Linked DNA regions of Homo sapiens. The protein of the gene in region 1 interacts with the protein of each later gene in a biochemical or structural test. Each region holds a gene or a part of one and is shown in the gene's direction. Other genes may lie near its edges.

Evidence for each region. The genes of interacting proteins can lie anywhere in the genome.
Region 2: the proteins of COL2A1 (region 1) and ANXA5 form a complex in vitro, tested with the Homo sapiens proteins (one study listed by BioGRID).

Annotation. Positions count from the first base shown.
Region 1 is NC_000012.12:47,987,477-47,994,556, reverse strand, and holds part of COL2A1 (collagen alpha-1(II) chain isoform 1 precursor), read left to right. Parts: intron 1-79; coding exon 80-133; intron 134-509; coding exon 510-563; intron 564-694; coding exon 695-748; intron 749-1,054; coding exon 1,055-1,099; intron 1,100-1,625; coding exon 1,626-1,679; intron 1,680-4,751; coding exon 4,752-4,796; intron 4,797-5,275; coding exon 5,276-5,329; intron 5,330-6,847; coding exon 6,848-6,946; intron 6,947-7,080. UniProt on the Homo sapiens protein: Type II collagen is specific for cartilaginous tissues. It is essential for the normal embryonic development of the skeleton, for linear growth and for the ability of cartilage to resist compressive forces.
Region 2 is NC_000004.12:121,693,981-121,701,342, reverse strand, and holds the start of ANXA5 (annexin A5), read left to right. Parts: upstream 1-4,362; 5' UTR 4,363-4,480; intron 4,481-4,718; 5' UTR 4,719-4,753; coding exon 4,754-4,762; intron 4,763-7,362. UniProt on the Homo sapiens protein: This protein is an anticoagulant protein that acts as an indirect inhibitor of the thromboplastin-specific complex, which is involved in the blood coagulation cascade.

The DNA of each region.
Region 1 (7,080 bases):
GGAGGGAAGCCCTCTGGGGTGCCCCCACTATGCTACTGCGTCTCTGAGGAAGCTGGGATATCTCTCTCTCTCCCTTCAGGGTGAAGCTGGAAAACCTGGAAAAGCTGGTGAAAGGGGTCCGCCTGGTCCTCAGGTAAACGCCACCGTTCCCAGCCTCAGGCATCTTTCCTAGCGTCTCCCTCCCTGTGGCCTTAAACACAGTGCATCCAGTTCAATGAGGTCACTTCTGAGATGAAACGCCAGTAGCCCCTATATTTATCACGACCATGTTTGTAATTTCCACTCAGGCTCTCATGAGGGAGGCTGGGCAGTTGTTATTTATACCACTTTGCATAAAATGGGGGGTACGGGGAGGGGTGGTCTGGGTTTTACAGAAAGAGCTGTCCAAGTGTGGGGATTCGAGACAACGCCCTGGTGGCCCAAGGGAACTGGAGGCCCTCCTGCAGCCCAGGGCAGCTTTCCACTGTTATTTTACTCTGTGCTCTGAACACCTCCACTTTGGATTGCAGGGTGCTCGTGGTTTCCCAGGAACCCCAGGCCTTCCTGGTGTCAAAGGTCACAGAGTAAGTATCACGGGTGAGAAGGTTGGAAGGAAGAGATGCCTGGTGGGAGAGAAAAGCACTTTGGGGTGCGTGCATTTCTTCCAACTTGGGTTTCCCAGAAGTCTGATTGAACATTTTCTCTTGTTCCCTAGGGTTATCCAGGCCTGGACGGTGCTAAGGGAGAGGCGGGTGCTCCTGGTGTGAAGGTGAGAGGCCAGAAAGTACAATGGGATGGGGAGGAGGGAGACAATGAGGAGCCCCTCTTCCTAGCCAGGGAGACACTGTGGAGCTCAGTGGAACTAGCTCCTCAGAACAGCCTTGGCTGGGAACACCAGCCCTACATCCTGATGGGCCAACAGCAGGCCTGGAGAGCTCAGGGCATTGTCCCTCACAGGACTGAAGTTTGTGTCAGTGCGAGCTGAGATGACCAGGGCTTTTGGCGTCTTCCCTAGGAGTTTGCTGGCGGCCAAGAATGGGGTCCCAGACACTGACCTTGTGCATCATTTTTCCAGGGTGAGAGTGGTTCCCCGGGTGAGAACGGATCTCCGGGCCCAATGGTAAGTATGGACACCCTCCAGGAAGGTTTATCAAAGACTCTTCAGACTATCAGATGGCTGCAAAGAGCTCCCTTTGTGCAAAGTTCATATTCTGTGTTGTAGATTTCATCTGATTGTGAGCAAAAAGCAAAATGTATTAGACAGATGATTTGTTCAAGATTTCACCAACATTTCCTTAAGATACCCATTTTATCACACTAAAGATGCTCCCATTTAAAAAAATTCTGTTGAGTCTCAACATTTTGTCAAGCTCATCTACTGCAAGGAGCAAGGTGTGCTTGTAACAAAGGTTCCCAATAGGTAGCAACAGGAACATTCGTGTGTTCCGCCTGTGGAGAAAACTGTTGGGTGTGATCTGAGGCATCCTGGCTAGTCAAGGAGCCAGCACCATCAGGAGGTCCTTGTTTTCCTGGGTGTGGGCATCCTCCCTCTCCTCTGGTATCCGCAAAGGGCCTGCAGGTAGAAATGGTCACCCTGAGCACCGTAAAGCCAACTCATGCTTAGGCTGTCCTGGTGTGTGTTCCAGGGTCCTCGTGGCCTGCCTGGTGAAAGAGGACGGACTGGCCCTGCTGGCGCTGCGGTGAGTAATTGACAAAGCCAAACACCACCATTTGCCGAGCACTTTAGAGTTTACAGGTTTGTTTCTCTTGACCCTCGAAACAACCCTGTGAGGCATAGGGAGTATTGTTATCCCTTAAGAATTCACCCCCAGTGTGCCCATCAAAACTTCCCAGGCTGAGTCTGCACAGTTGAAGGAGGAAGGATAGGAATGGGAGGGTCGATGGGTGAAAGCATGATTCTCTTAACCAGTCCAGATTATCAGGTAATCCCTTCAACAACCACCACCCACTCCCTGGGCAATCCAGCTGGAGTTTACAGACAGACTTAGCTGGCTATAGCACCACCGTGCTACTCTCTGTTCTTCCTGGTTGCTCAAATGCCCTAGAAAAGTGGAACAGGTGAGCATCAACTCACAGGGCTCTATGCTGGCTGCTGCTGTGAGGGATGTTATGCTATAGTACCAGGGGCCACCATTCCATAGGCACTTCCTGTGTTTAATACCCTATATGCTTTACTTCATCTCATCTTCCTCCATATCCTGAGAGGTGGTTCTATTCTTCTCCCCATTTTACGGATGAAAAAACCGAGACACAGAAAGGTGAAATAGCTTAAGATAAATAGTGCCTTGCAGCCTTAGACTCTGGTGGCCTCTAGTTAATGTGGGAAATTAAGGGTGAGGGGATTGGCAGCTGATGGAGGGTGCAGGGTGCCAGACAGAGGCGTTTAGCTCTGATTCCTTAGCAATAGAGAGTCCTTGTAGGCACTTGGTCAGGCGAGTGATGCGATGAAAGCTGTGTTTAAGAAAGATTATGCTTTCTGCTGATTTCATACCCCCAACACCCAAGCTCTGAGGCCCCTCCTCACAGGTCCTTGCAGGGCTGGCCAAAATAAAGCAGCTTCACTCCGTTGTGCTGCTTTCCAGCTAATGTGTCTGTTTGGCAGAAGTTTCCCTCAAAGGCAGATCAGTGAAATAAGCAGAAGCCTCGACCCCCCTTTGTCAGCCAGAGCTGCTGAAGTGCCTTGCCCCAGGGTCACTTTGTGTGAGGGGATTAGAGAGCACTGGGGCTGCCAAGAAACACTGCCGTTTCTACAGATTAGCAGGATGCTGGCTTGTGGCCTTTTAGCGAGGCTCAGAGCTGCGGTGGCCCTAGTCTGCATGGGCTAAAGACAAGCTCCATCTCCTGTCCTTGTTCCCTCCTTCCTGGGCACAGCCGCCCTGCTTCTTGGTTCTCTCTGTTGGTTCCTGTCCGCACGGTAGTTAGGCTGGCAGCGTGTGTAGGATTTGGCTTAGAAGATTGACAACATTGCCTTTGAGCCCTTCTTTGCTACTCCTCCCTCTCCCCTCCCATCAGACTCCTCTCTGGAGTCTGCTCTGCGAGGCCTCTGCTCTGTGGTATCCCAGCAGCCTTCTCAGCCTTGACTTCCAGAAGGGGGCTGTGCAGTGTCCGGGGTGTGCAGGCCCCAGACACGGGGTAGGCTCATGGAGATCCAAGTGCTGATCTAGTGTCAAGGCTGGCCTGGAGACTGGGCTGGGTTGGTGTCTGCCTGCTGTGGTCATGTGCCCTCCCTTGGGCCTGTATCCTCTCTCCAGACTTGCTGCAGGGAGAGGTGGCAGATGTCAGCCTAGTTCTGGCCTCTCAGAGCAGCATGGCAGCTCCCTTTCACTCAGGCCCAGGCTGGGCCCTCCTGCTGGCTGACCCCTGGGGAGAGGGTGCTCCAGAGCTCCCCAAGGAACTGCTTCCCGAAGCAGCCAGGCCAGCCCAGAGGGGCTGTGGCCAATCCTGAAGCTTTATGTTCCTGCTGACATTTTTTCTAAGTTTTCTCTTGCTTTCCTCTTAAATGCCAATCTGGAGAGTCTCCGTTAGGAGAAATGGACCCCAGCCAGGAAGAAGAGTTGAGTTGTATTTAAAACACGAGCTCCCCCTAAAGCATCCTTCTTTAGCTTCTAAGGAGAGGCAGAGACTGACAGGCAGGACTCAGCAGGAAAAGGTACCCCCCTGACCTGCTCAGTCAGGCCCTAGGCCCAGCTCCACCCAGCCTGTGGCCCCCAGAGTTTCGGTAAAGAGTTCCCTGGGCCTTAAGGAACCTTGAGAGAGCATTTGAGGGGTGCCACCACAAACTTGGCAGAAAAAACCCTCCCCCTCCAAGTCCAGTCCTAGAGAAGGAGCTGGCAACCTTGCCTTGCTTTGTAAGCAAAAGCCTCTTAGGGCTTGAGCTCAGATGTAGTGTTTGAGCTGTGGCTGGTGCCCTGCCCCATCAGGGAGCCAATGGTAGACATCCTATGGGCATCTTTGTTTTCCGTAAGAGCAGGCTGTCTGGGGATGGGCCAGAGGAAGAGGCAACCTGGAGTCAACCAAGAGGAGGCCTTAACCAAGCCTTAACCACAGAGGTTAACCAAGCCTTGAAAGCGCTTCCCCCTGAGCAGGCAGGAAGCACTGAGTCCACATGGTTGCCTCGCTGTTTCATTTCCTTACACTCAATTCTCTCAGTCTTTAAATGATCACTTGGCCTTGAAGTTACGGATATTTGGGGTCTGAACTGAAGTTGAAGAAAAGAGAAAATGATTTAAGCTTTGTTTAAGATTAGGGGCCAGGTGCGGTGGCTCACGCCTGTAATCCCAGCACCTTGGGAGCCTGAGGCGGGTGGATCACCTGAGGTCAGGAGTTCCAGACCAGCCTGGCCAACATAGCAAAACCCAGTCTCTACTAAAAATAACAATAAAAAAAATAGCCAGGTGTGGTGACACATGCCTGTAATCCCAGTTACTCAGGAGGCTGAGGCAGAATTGCTTGAACTTGAGAGGTGGAGGTTGTAGTGAGCCAAGACCGCACCACTGCACTCCAGCCTGGCGACAGAGCCAGACTCCGTCTCAAAAACAACAACAAAAAAAGATTAGAAGAAGCCCATTACTGCCTTCTGGCCACCCACTCGCACAGACACCAAAACTGCAGCCCACACCTCGCCATCCTCGTGCTCTGCCCTGGGACACCCCAGGCACAGTGTGTCCTTCGTTTTCTGTAAGGGTGGGCTGGGAGCAGGGACGGACAGGGCCTGTGGGCACCTCTCATGGTCACTTCCTTCTTGCTCACAGGGTGCCCGAGGCAACGATGGTCAGCCAGGCCCCGCAGGGCCTCCGGTAAGTTCATTTCATCCTCAGCAGGTCATTGTTGCTGTGCTTTAAGTCCCGTTAAGCAGCCCAAGGCAGTCTGCAGGGTGTATTGGGTGCAACCACAGCAGCACTCTGATGTCTACTGGAAAGGGGGAGGAAAGAGAAGAAGTTTGTAAATATCAATTGAGCATATCGATAACAAGCTTTGAAGCATGGGCTCATTTTCCTCAGCCATCCTTTCAGCAGTCTTTTTAGAGGAGGGAGGTCAAAGGAGTTTCTGCTTCTCACCACAGATGTAGTCAGAAACTTGCTTTGCCTTCTGAAGCCAGGCAAAGTTTCCTGGGGACGCTGGCAATGGGGACAATTTTCATCCAAGGCCTTTTAGCCACAATGGATATGGAGTGAAATCAGTACAGAGGAGGGAAGGAGTGTGAGGTGTCGGGGTGGCTCGCTTTGGAGGCCAGAACTGGCATTCACCTCTCTTCTCATCCGCCTACTCTCTCCAGGGTCCTGTCGGTCCTGCTGGTGGTCCTGGCTTCCCTGGTGCTCCTGGAGCCAAGGTACGTGCCCTGTTGTCCAGTCAGGAACTTCTGGGTGCCGAGAAGCTGTCCTTTCCCCGTAACCCTTGCTCATTGCTCCCTCAACAACCACCTGCTCCCTTCTGAGAAGTAGCTCCCCACCACCCCACCCACTGGCCCCTCCATCCAGGCAGGGCAAAAAGCCAGACACTCGCAGTCTCACCTGGAGGGAAAGTAAGACAGAAGATAAAATGTGGGAGATCCAGTTACAACTTTGGAGTGGGGAAAGGTGGACAGAGAAGAAGACGGGGATACACCATAGGCCTGGCAGGGGCAGAAGGCCAGGAGTGGCAGCACAGGGAAGCAAACCTAGGGGAGACCCAACAGCTGAGCAAGCTCGGGGCCCTGACGGGCACTGGAGGGAACTGGGCAGGGAAAAGGGCACAGGCAGGGAGCCCCTGCTCCCCTCTGGGTTTCTGCTTTATTTGGGGTGCCTGGCTCTTCCAAACCATGTTAACGGAGTTCTCTGGAGGATTACTAGAGGCCAGTGGGAGGCCAGCCAGTTCAGGGACAGGCCTCGCAGCCCAGGAAGGATTCCAGTGTGAACGTCCCTGGGAATGAATAAGGAGCCTCCATGTGTCACTGGCATCAGGTTGCTTTTCCCCTCCTGGGGGTTTCCATGGCAACCAGACAGTGTCTGAGGTCCCGGAGCCGGGTGAAGGAGACCCATTGTGAAGAGGGACAGCGGAAGGTGAGGGGGGCTGACCTTTTGAAAATAATAATTACCACAGTGAAGCAGGAATGTTCTGAGAAGAAACCTGAGGAGGCTCTGCCCTCTCTCCAGGTCAGCAGCCCTCCCCAGGGACTCTGCCATCTAGAGTGGGTTGTAATTTTCAGGAAAAAATGAAAGTAAAAGCACAAGCCATTTTGTGGGGAGGGGGCTTGCCAGAGGCGCCCGCTAAGGGGAATTGGGCTGTATTGAGAGCAGGGAGGGGCAGAGTCCCCATGTGCTTTTGCCTTGGCTTTCTGGCTTACTGAGAACAGACTGGGGCCGGAGCCAGGGTGTCACTGTTCACCCGTCAGCCAGATGGGAGTGAGGTGGTGCTCTGAGCTGGGATGTTCAGAGACTTAGAAGGGACCTCAGCTCCTCAATAAAATAGAAAAACAGGAGGTGGGGGAGAGAGCGGTGTCCGTCCATCATCCCACGGTGCCAGGATGGCAGGGTCCCCAGCCCACGCTTTTCTGATGGTGTCGATGGAACAGCAGGTTGCCCATTGCTGTAGTATGTAGCTGTGCCGTGGCATGTGGAGGCTCACTGTGTAGAGATGAGGTAAGCAGTAGAGGAGGCAGGCGTGGGAAGTCATCAAGTCATCAGCTCGGTCAGGCAGGGAGAAAAACGGCAGCGTGAACTGTGTGTGAACGCACATGTTCATGTGCAGGGTTGGGTGCATGTGCATAATTTAGTGCTGTGCTTGCAGCTGGCCCTGAGCTATTGCCCACCCACTAGAGGTCTGTGTCCCCTCTCTTCTTCTTCATTTCATCCTCCCTGTCTCTTCCCAGGGTGAAGCCGGCCCCACTGGTGCCCGTGGTCCTGAAGGTGCTCAAGGTCCTCGCGGTGAACCTGGTACTCCTGGGTCCCCTGGGCCTGCTGGTGCCTCCGTAAGTGCAGCTTCTCTTTGGCCTGGGGGGGTCTGGGGTCTGTGGCTTTGGAACTCTTGACTCTGTACTTTGCTCTGACAGTTGTGGGCTCCAACCACCAAACCTTCATTCTGGCCCAATGCCTGTCCCCACCT
Region 2 (7,362 bases), on another chromosome or scaffold:
CTCTAGATAAGGAAGCCAAGGATCAGAGAAATCACATAATTTGTCCAAGTCACATCCCTGGTATGCAGGCAGAGTAGGGATTTGAACTCAACTGTCTCTGTCTTCAGAGAGTGTGCTTTTTCCAGATCTTGCCTGGAAGACATGATGTTCCTCCTTTCCCTTTGTATCTAGCCCCTACTTTACTCCTCAGCCACTCTCTCGTTTCTTCTGCTTCATGCAATTCATTCTCCTGCCATCTTTTCTTCTTCTTTAACTTGCCATAATTTGCAATAGATATATTTATTAAACAAAATCAATTTTTAAAGTAGACTGGTTGAAAATGTTATAATTTTCTAAAAAACAAGATTCCAATTCCTCTAAAACTAAAGAAGAGTTGTTTTGTACTTATTTATAAAAAGCCTGTAACTCATTTTCTTTTCTTTATGTGTCATTATAATCAAGGGAAACAGTAGGGCCATGAATATATGATCAAAATATTAGAGTTGAGAGATGTAGAAACTGAAACACAAAGAAGCTCAGCGACTTATTTAGAATAAATTGGCTAGTTCCTGAATGATCCAAATAATTGAGAGAAATAGGGAAAATCCTGAGTTAACAAATAAATACAGTTTCAAAAGTGTGTTTGTAAATTAGTTCTCTGGCATTTGGTATATTTCTCTAATAAAAAGAAAATTGATGTGACCTGAGTGTCTCATAGAAAACAGCTGAAACTCATTATTTATATCTAAGAATAGTATAAAAAACTCCCCACAATTATTATGTAGTACTTATAATGAACACAACACAAAGACAATACACTGAGAAAGAAGGACTTTAATTTTTAAATGTGTAAGAAGAGAAAATTTAATTAGAAAGATGAAAGACTTAACTGGCGAATCCGGCAGAGATTCTAAAGATGACATTTGGACACTGATAAAGGCCATTGGGGGATGAATGACAGACACTTGTTTTTAAGAGTGTGAAAGCTGTCCTTATCAAAATGGAGTCAATTGTGTTAAAAAACGAGACAAATCCCTGACAAATGGCTGGGGAAGGCCATGAAGGGAGGGTTCTAATACATAAATGCCTGATAACAAGAACTATTGAAAAATACTGCAAAAACCACAACTTTGGACAAAGGCCATTGCAACCACACACACACACACACACACACACACACACACACACAGAGAGAGAGAGAGAGAGAGAGAGAGAGAGAGAGAAAATGAGAACTTCTGCGGAGACATCTGCCCAGCAACTGCCTGTACAACATTAGACTGGTGCCACTCTAGTTATTGATTACTGTAGCCAAGGATAATTATCTCAAAAACAATGATGTAATCTTCCTTCTTCCTTGAAAAACCTTTGCCTTCCTTTACCTCCCTGAATACGCAAAATAGTTTAATATGGCACACATATTCCCATTGCAATGCCCATTCCCAAATAAACATCATTTTCTTTTAGAAAGTCTCCCTCTCTGTTTGTTATTAGGCTGACAAGAGGTAGTGAAAGAGATTTCCTGAGTGCCTATCATTTATATCACTCAGTAGTTAAGAACATCAGTTGTTCAAAATCCATCAATTAAATACACAATTCAAAGCAGAATCTTTATGTGGCAATCTCTCTTTATTCTAAATAAGTCGCTGAGCTTCTTTGTGTTTTAGTTTCTACATCTCTCAACTCTAATATTGTACCTTCCACTCCAGCCATTTTAGACAGTTCAAATCACACAGACACAAAGAGATACTTTCCTTCTCTTGGTTTTGCAGTTCACTTAACCAGACCACCCTTTCTCCCCTTCATAGTTTGATAAAATATCCTCTCTCAAAAGCCTAATCCAAATGCTATGTCAACCATCTGACAAAATATTAGCTCCTTCCTCTGAAACTAATTGCATTTTGATTGCATTCTAGGCATTTCTTTCCTGATTTATAGTCTCTCATTGTAGTGTTCATATACATGCTTTATCTATAATATTAAGGTGCAAACTCTTAGGTATGGCCTTTCCACAGGTGCTCAGTGTATAGTTGTCAAATACAATTAAATTGTATCAATTTAGGTTTCTGTTCAAGGCTTCTCAGAAATGGCTTCATATCACCTTTGCAAAATAAGTGTTCCCTTCATTTCCATTCCCTAGCCTTTATTTTCTTTATACCACGCATCACACAGGACATATTAGATACTTGTTTATTGTTTGTTTCCTCCACCAGAATGTATGACCTATGAGGGCAAGGCCTTTGTTTCACTTGCCGTGTTTACCCCAGCACCTAGATCTGTGCCTGGTCCAGAGTAGGAGTTGAATAAACTGATATTACTGGAAGTGAAAGAAATGCTACCTGGAGTATTTCAAGACTCTGAGTCCAATAACTCATCGATTTTGTCAGTATTTAGCTGCAGGACATAGAGCAAGTCACTAACCCATGATGAGTCTCATGTCCCTGTAAAATCAATGATTGTTAAATACAGGATCTCTGAGGTCCTGTTTAACTCCATTAATGTGAGAGTAGAAAGTGAGAGAAGCAAACTGAGTTCAAGTGGATATGGGTGAGAAAAAAGAATGCTCTAGGCAAGACTACAGGTCCTGCTTTTGGTGCAGGGCAGAGAGAAAGTAGAAAAGCTGGAGCAACGGAGACAGATGCTCAGAAAAGGGCTGCCTTCAGATATATTAATACCTGTAAAGAAAACCCGGGGGAGGTGCTGACTTGGGGAGAGCCTGAGGCTGAGTAGACAGCTGGGCTGGTGGAGAGGAGGCTCCCAGAGGAAAGGCAACCCGCCAGTGGGGTGGGGGTGATGGGGTTGGCAAGCTCCACAAATTTTGCAATTTTGCCTCCTTTCCCAGAGAACAACCACTCTGTTGTGACTTTGTCAGGGCTGGAATAGGCATGTGGTTCACACGTGAAAGCGAATGAGAAGTTCTATACAAAGAACCACATTTGCTGTCCATTTAATTTATTCTTCCTCATTCTCAAAGAAGACTAGATCCTCATCTCTTACCCTTAACCTCCACGTTGAGAAGCACTTTGCCCTTCCCATTCTAGCATATGTCTAGAACACTGCATCTAGTGTCGCAAACTTGTCCTCTTGCCCCCTCTGCCCTGGCACCTTCCCTCCCCACACCAGTAAGTCTGAGAAGGTCCCTGTGTCTTCTACTTTTCCTTTTCCAGCATATGGAGACAAAAGTGATTATATCCCGGATGCTAATCCGCCATGTTGACCTTTAATAACCCCAGTCCCATGAATACCTCCTGATTCCTAGGATTTTTTTTTTAAACTGTCCTTAGCATAAGAACATGTCAACCTTGATGCTATTGCCCACATTGTAGGCTATGAAGCATACGGCATTCTCACCTGTTCCGGAGGGCTGCCTTTAATTGTCTTGCACAGAGCAGTATACTCTTTCCTTACGGTATATAAGGCCAGGGTCTGGGGAGTAACAGTGCAGAAATTTATCTGCTTGCCGCCGCCCAAGGCCACGCTTCTGTCTACCACATCCTCCAATAGCACCCCTATTACCTACAGACTGGATTTGTCTGTCTCGTTCTTTGGTTTCTTGACTCCTTCGCGTTTGGGGGCTGCTTTGCATATAAAGCCCTTTCACAGAACACAGCACCATGCTAGTACAATACGCTGTAGATTCTCCCTCCCTCCCCCTCTCTCTCATATACTCATATATTTTATGTTGAACCAATATGAGGCATTGCTCAAATTTAAGTCATATTAAAGTTCTAGGCTAGTTTTGAAAACAGAAACTGATTGGAAGCAGAGGTTTTCAAATAGCCCACATACGCTACTAGAAGGCTGTACATTTAAGAGAGGGCCATCTAGGAAGCAATAATAGGCATTAAAACAACAACAAAACAACAAAACAAAACAGAAACAAAAACAACTTGGGAAACGGCCCTCCTTTCACGTTTTTTCTATCCCATCGACAAAGGCGCGCTGTCCTTAGCTGCGATGATTTTGTCTCGCCTCCAAAAAGACGCCCACGCACTATGTTGAGCACCCAAGTGAGGCTACGGTTCCTGCGGTCACAGAGGGCAGGGAGGCTCAAGCACCTCCAAAACCCCGAGCCCTGGACAGCTCCCCAGGCCCTTCCCGCGGCGCGAGGACAAGAGGTCTCCGGGGCCCTCGGGGGAGCGGCGCCTCCTCCTGGTTCCAGCAGCTCTGCGGCCGCTCCCCACCCAGGCCCGCGAGACCAGCGGGACAGTCCGCGCCGCGGGAGACCAACTGGGACGAGCCGCGACCCACGCAGGCGCGCTGAGGCCGGGGCAGGGGCGGGCCCGGCTGGCGCGGCCGGCCTGCGGTTGGGGCCCTGGCGGGGGTGGGACGGGCCAAGCCGGGCAGGGCCGGGGTGGGGCCGCTGGCGTTTCCGTTGCTTGGATCAGTCTAGGTGCAGCTGCCGGATCCTTCAGCGTCTGCATCTCGGCGTCGCCCCGCGTACCGTCGCCCGGCTCTCCGCCGCTCTCCCGGGGTTTCGGGGCACTTGGGTCCCACAGTCTGGGTGAGTGGTCGCAGCCCGGGGAGGGGGCTCCTTCTGGAGAGGAGAGCGTGGTCGCGGGGCACTGGATTCGCGCGGACGCTCGGCCGAGAGCTGTCCCGGTAGCTGCGAGAGGGCGGGTCGGCCCCGTGGCGGGGCCCTCCGGGCTGTCTGAGCGCCGCCGGGTCCCCGCGGACCTGCGCTTGGGGAGGGCACGAGTTGCAAATGGCGCGCTAAGCCCGAGGTTTCTTCTCTTTTGCAGTCCTGCTTCACCTTCCCCTGACCTGAGTAGTCGCCATGGCACAGGTAAGGCCGTGCGCCCCCCACTGCGCTGGATTTACCCACAACTTTGTATGCTGCGACGAGGGACTTTTAGGATTTGTCTGAGAGCCAAAAAGTTTAGGAGGAAAGGGAACCTGCTTTGGGGACATCGCTTCCACTTTTCTTGTTCCCCCTTTGCTTCCCTGCCCCCGTTTCTGTGTCCCGGTTCTTCCCGCTGAGCGCCCTCCGGAACCAGCACCGACGCCGCCAAGCTGCCTTCGCGCGCAACAGCTGGTGACGTGGCCGGATTTGTGTGCGCTCCCTTTTCATGAGTGAATGTGTAAAAGTGGGCCTTCCCCAAAATCCAGAGAGTAGCTCAAATTAGAACCGGAGCAAGAACAGCTCATCGTGGTCATGTGAGGCGAACGCATTCCCCCCCCACCCCGCCCCCCGACTTCCTTTATTTTTTTTCCGCAAAGTTTTCTGTATTTTAATACTGTGATTGAGCATTGGCTTTTTCCAGTTGCTCAGCCCAGTTTTACTAAAACTGTAGGACGTAGGCTCTGATTTTTTTTTTAATCCAAAAGATTAAACACAAGCGCTGTTTTTCTTAAGCAATGAACTCGTGGAACGAGTTCTCAATTGAATTTGCCTTGGGACTGTTTCAGAAATTGATAATCTACTACAGGCTTTCTTTACTGTTTTTTTTTTTTCCTTTTTTTTTGAGACGGAGTCTCACTCTGTCGCCCAGGCTGGAGTCCAGTGACGTAGTGATCTCGCTCACTACAACCTCTGCCTCCCGGGTTCAAGCAATTCTCGTGTCTCAGCTTTCCAAGTAGCTGGGATTACAGGCGCCCCACCATGCCCAGCTAATTTTGTATTTTTAGTAGAGGCGGGGTTTCACCATGTTGGCCAGGCTGGTCTCAAACTCCTTGCCTCAAGTGATCCTCCCGCCTCGGCCTCAGGACTGTAATCCCACTGCGCCTGGTTTCTTTACTGTTATTAATGTTTATCAAAAATGTAGGAAAGAGAAGATAGTTTAAGGTCTTTAAATATTGACCATGTTATACAGTCTTTTGTGAATAAGATACCAGGGCTTAAAAACTCTAAAACTGATTTCACAGATCTTGTCAATCTAACCGGCTTGTCAGAGTCCAGATAGTTTTTTTTAAACAAGTGTTTTAACTGCTAAAACAATGCTGTCTCTTATTTATAGTTCACTTTTTATCAGATTGACTTATCAAAATTGAAAAAGGTTTCTTGGTCCTTTCCAAGTGAAAATGGGAGGATTAAGATTAGTTGATTACTTTATGAAACTTACACAGTGATCCCATTCTTACCTCCTCTTTTGCACTTAAATGTTACAGTAAACCAATTCTCATATTACTTCAAGTGGAAAGTTTGGTTTAAGTTCTTCTCCATAGAAAGGATACTTTTATGTGGAATTAACTTTCCTGAGTAATATTTTTCCTATCTTGATATGCTGGTGTGGTGATGTACATGAAGATTTAACAAGCATCGAATAATAATTCCCTCTATCTTTGCTCATTTAGCAGTTTCTTGAATCTCTTGTAAGTTCCCCAGTGATGTCTGAGGGTCCATCAATTCCTTTTCATTATGTAGACTGTTTACCCAAATAGTATAAGCGAACATATTTTCCAGTTGTGGACATTAATTTTAATAATTTCAAAGAATGATTAGTATCATAAAGGCCATGTGTATAGAAAACCTAGGAGAATGGTGGTTTGCATATAAAATTATGTACCTGAGCCCTATGACAATATAACACCAAGACTGTTTTCTATCAAAACTACAGTTTTTACTAATCATAAAAGTTACAAGTAATGTTTTAAAAAAGATACAGAGTGTTAAATTTTGTTCTAGTTTTGTTACTATTTTTGGAAATCATGAAAGTAAAACATTTTGTTAAAATATTTAGTATTGGCCAGGCATGGTGGCTCATGCCTGTAATCCTAGCACTTTGGGAGGCTGAGGCACGTGGATCACGAGGTCAGGAGTTCGAGACCAGCCTAACCAACATGGTGAGACCTCGTCTCTTCTAAAAATACAAAAATTAGCTGGGCATGGTGGTGCACAACTGTAATCCCAGCTACTCGGGAGGCTGAGGCAGGAGAATCACTTGAACCCGGGAGGCGGAGGTTGCAGTGAGCTGAGATCGCGCTGCTGCACTCCAGCCTGGGCAACAGTGAGACTACGTCTCAAAAAAAAAGTTTAGTATTAAAGTTGGGTGCGGCGTCTGAGCAGTAAGAATGTCATGAAGGCAAAACTAGGCTACGTAATTGTTCATTAGAAGCTTCATGAACATCAGAATTTTTTTGTTTATTTTTTATTTATTTTTTATTATATATATATTTTTATTATACTTTAAGTTCTAGGGTATGTGTGCACAACATGCAGGTTTGTTACATATGTATACATGGTGCCATGTTGGTGTGCTGCACCCATTAACTCAATATTTACATTAGCTGTATCTCCTAATGCTATCCCTCCCCCCTCCCCCCCGCCCACAATAGGCCCCGGTGTGGGTGTGTGATGTTCCCCTTTCTGTGTCCAAGTGTTCTCATGAACATCAGAATTATCTCTATGGTATATGTTTAAGTTACAAGGTTTGATCAGAAATATTT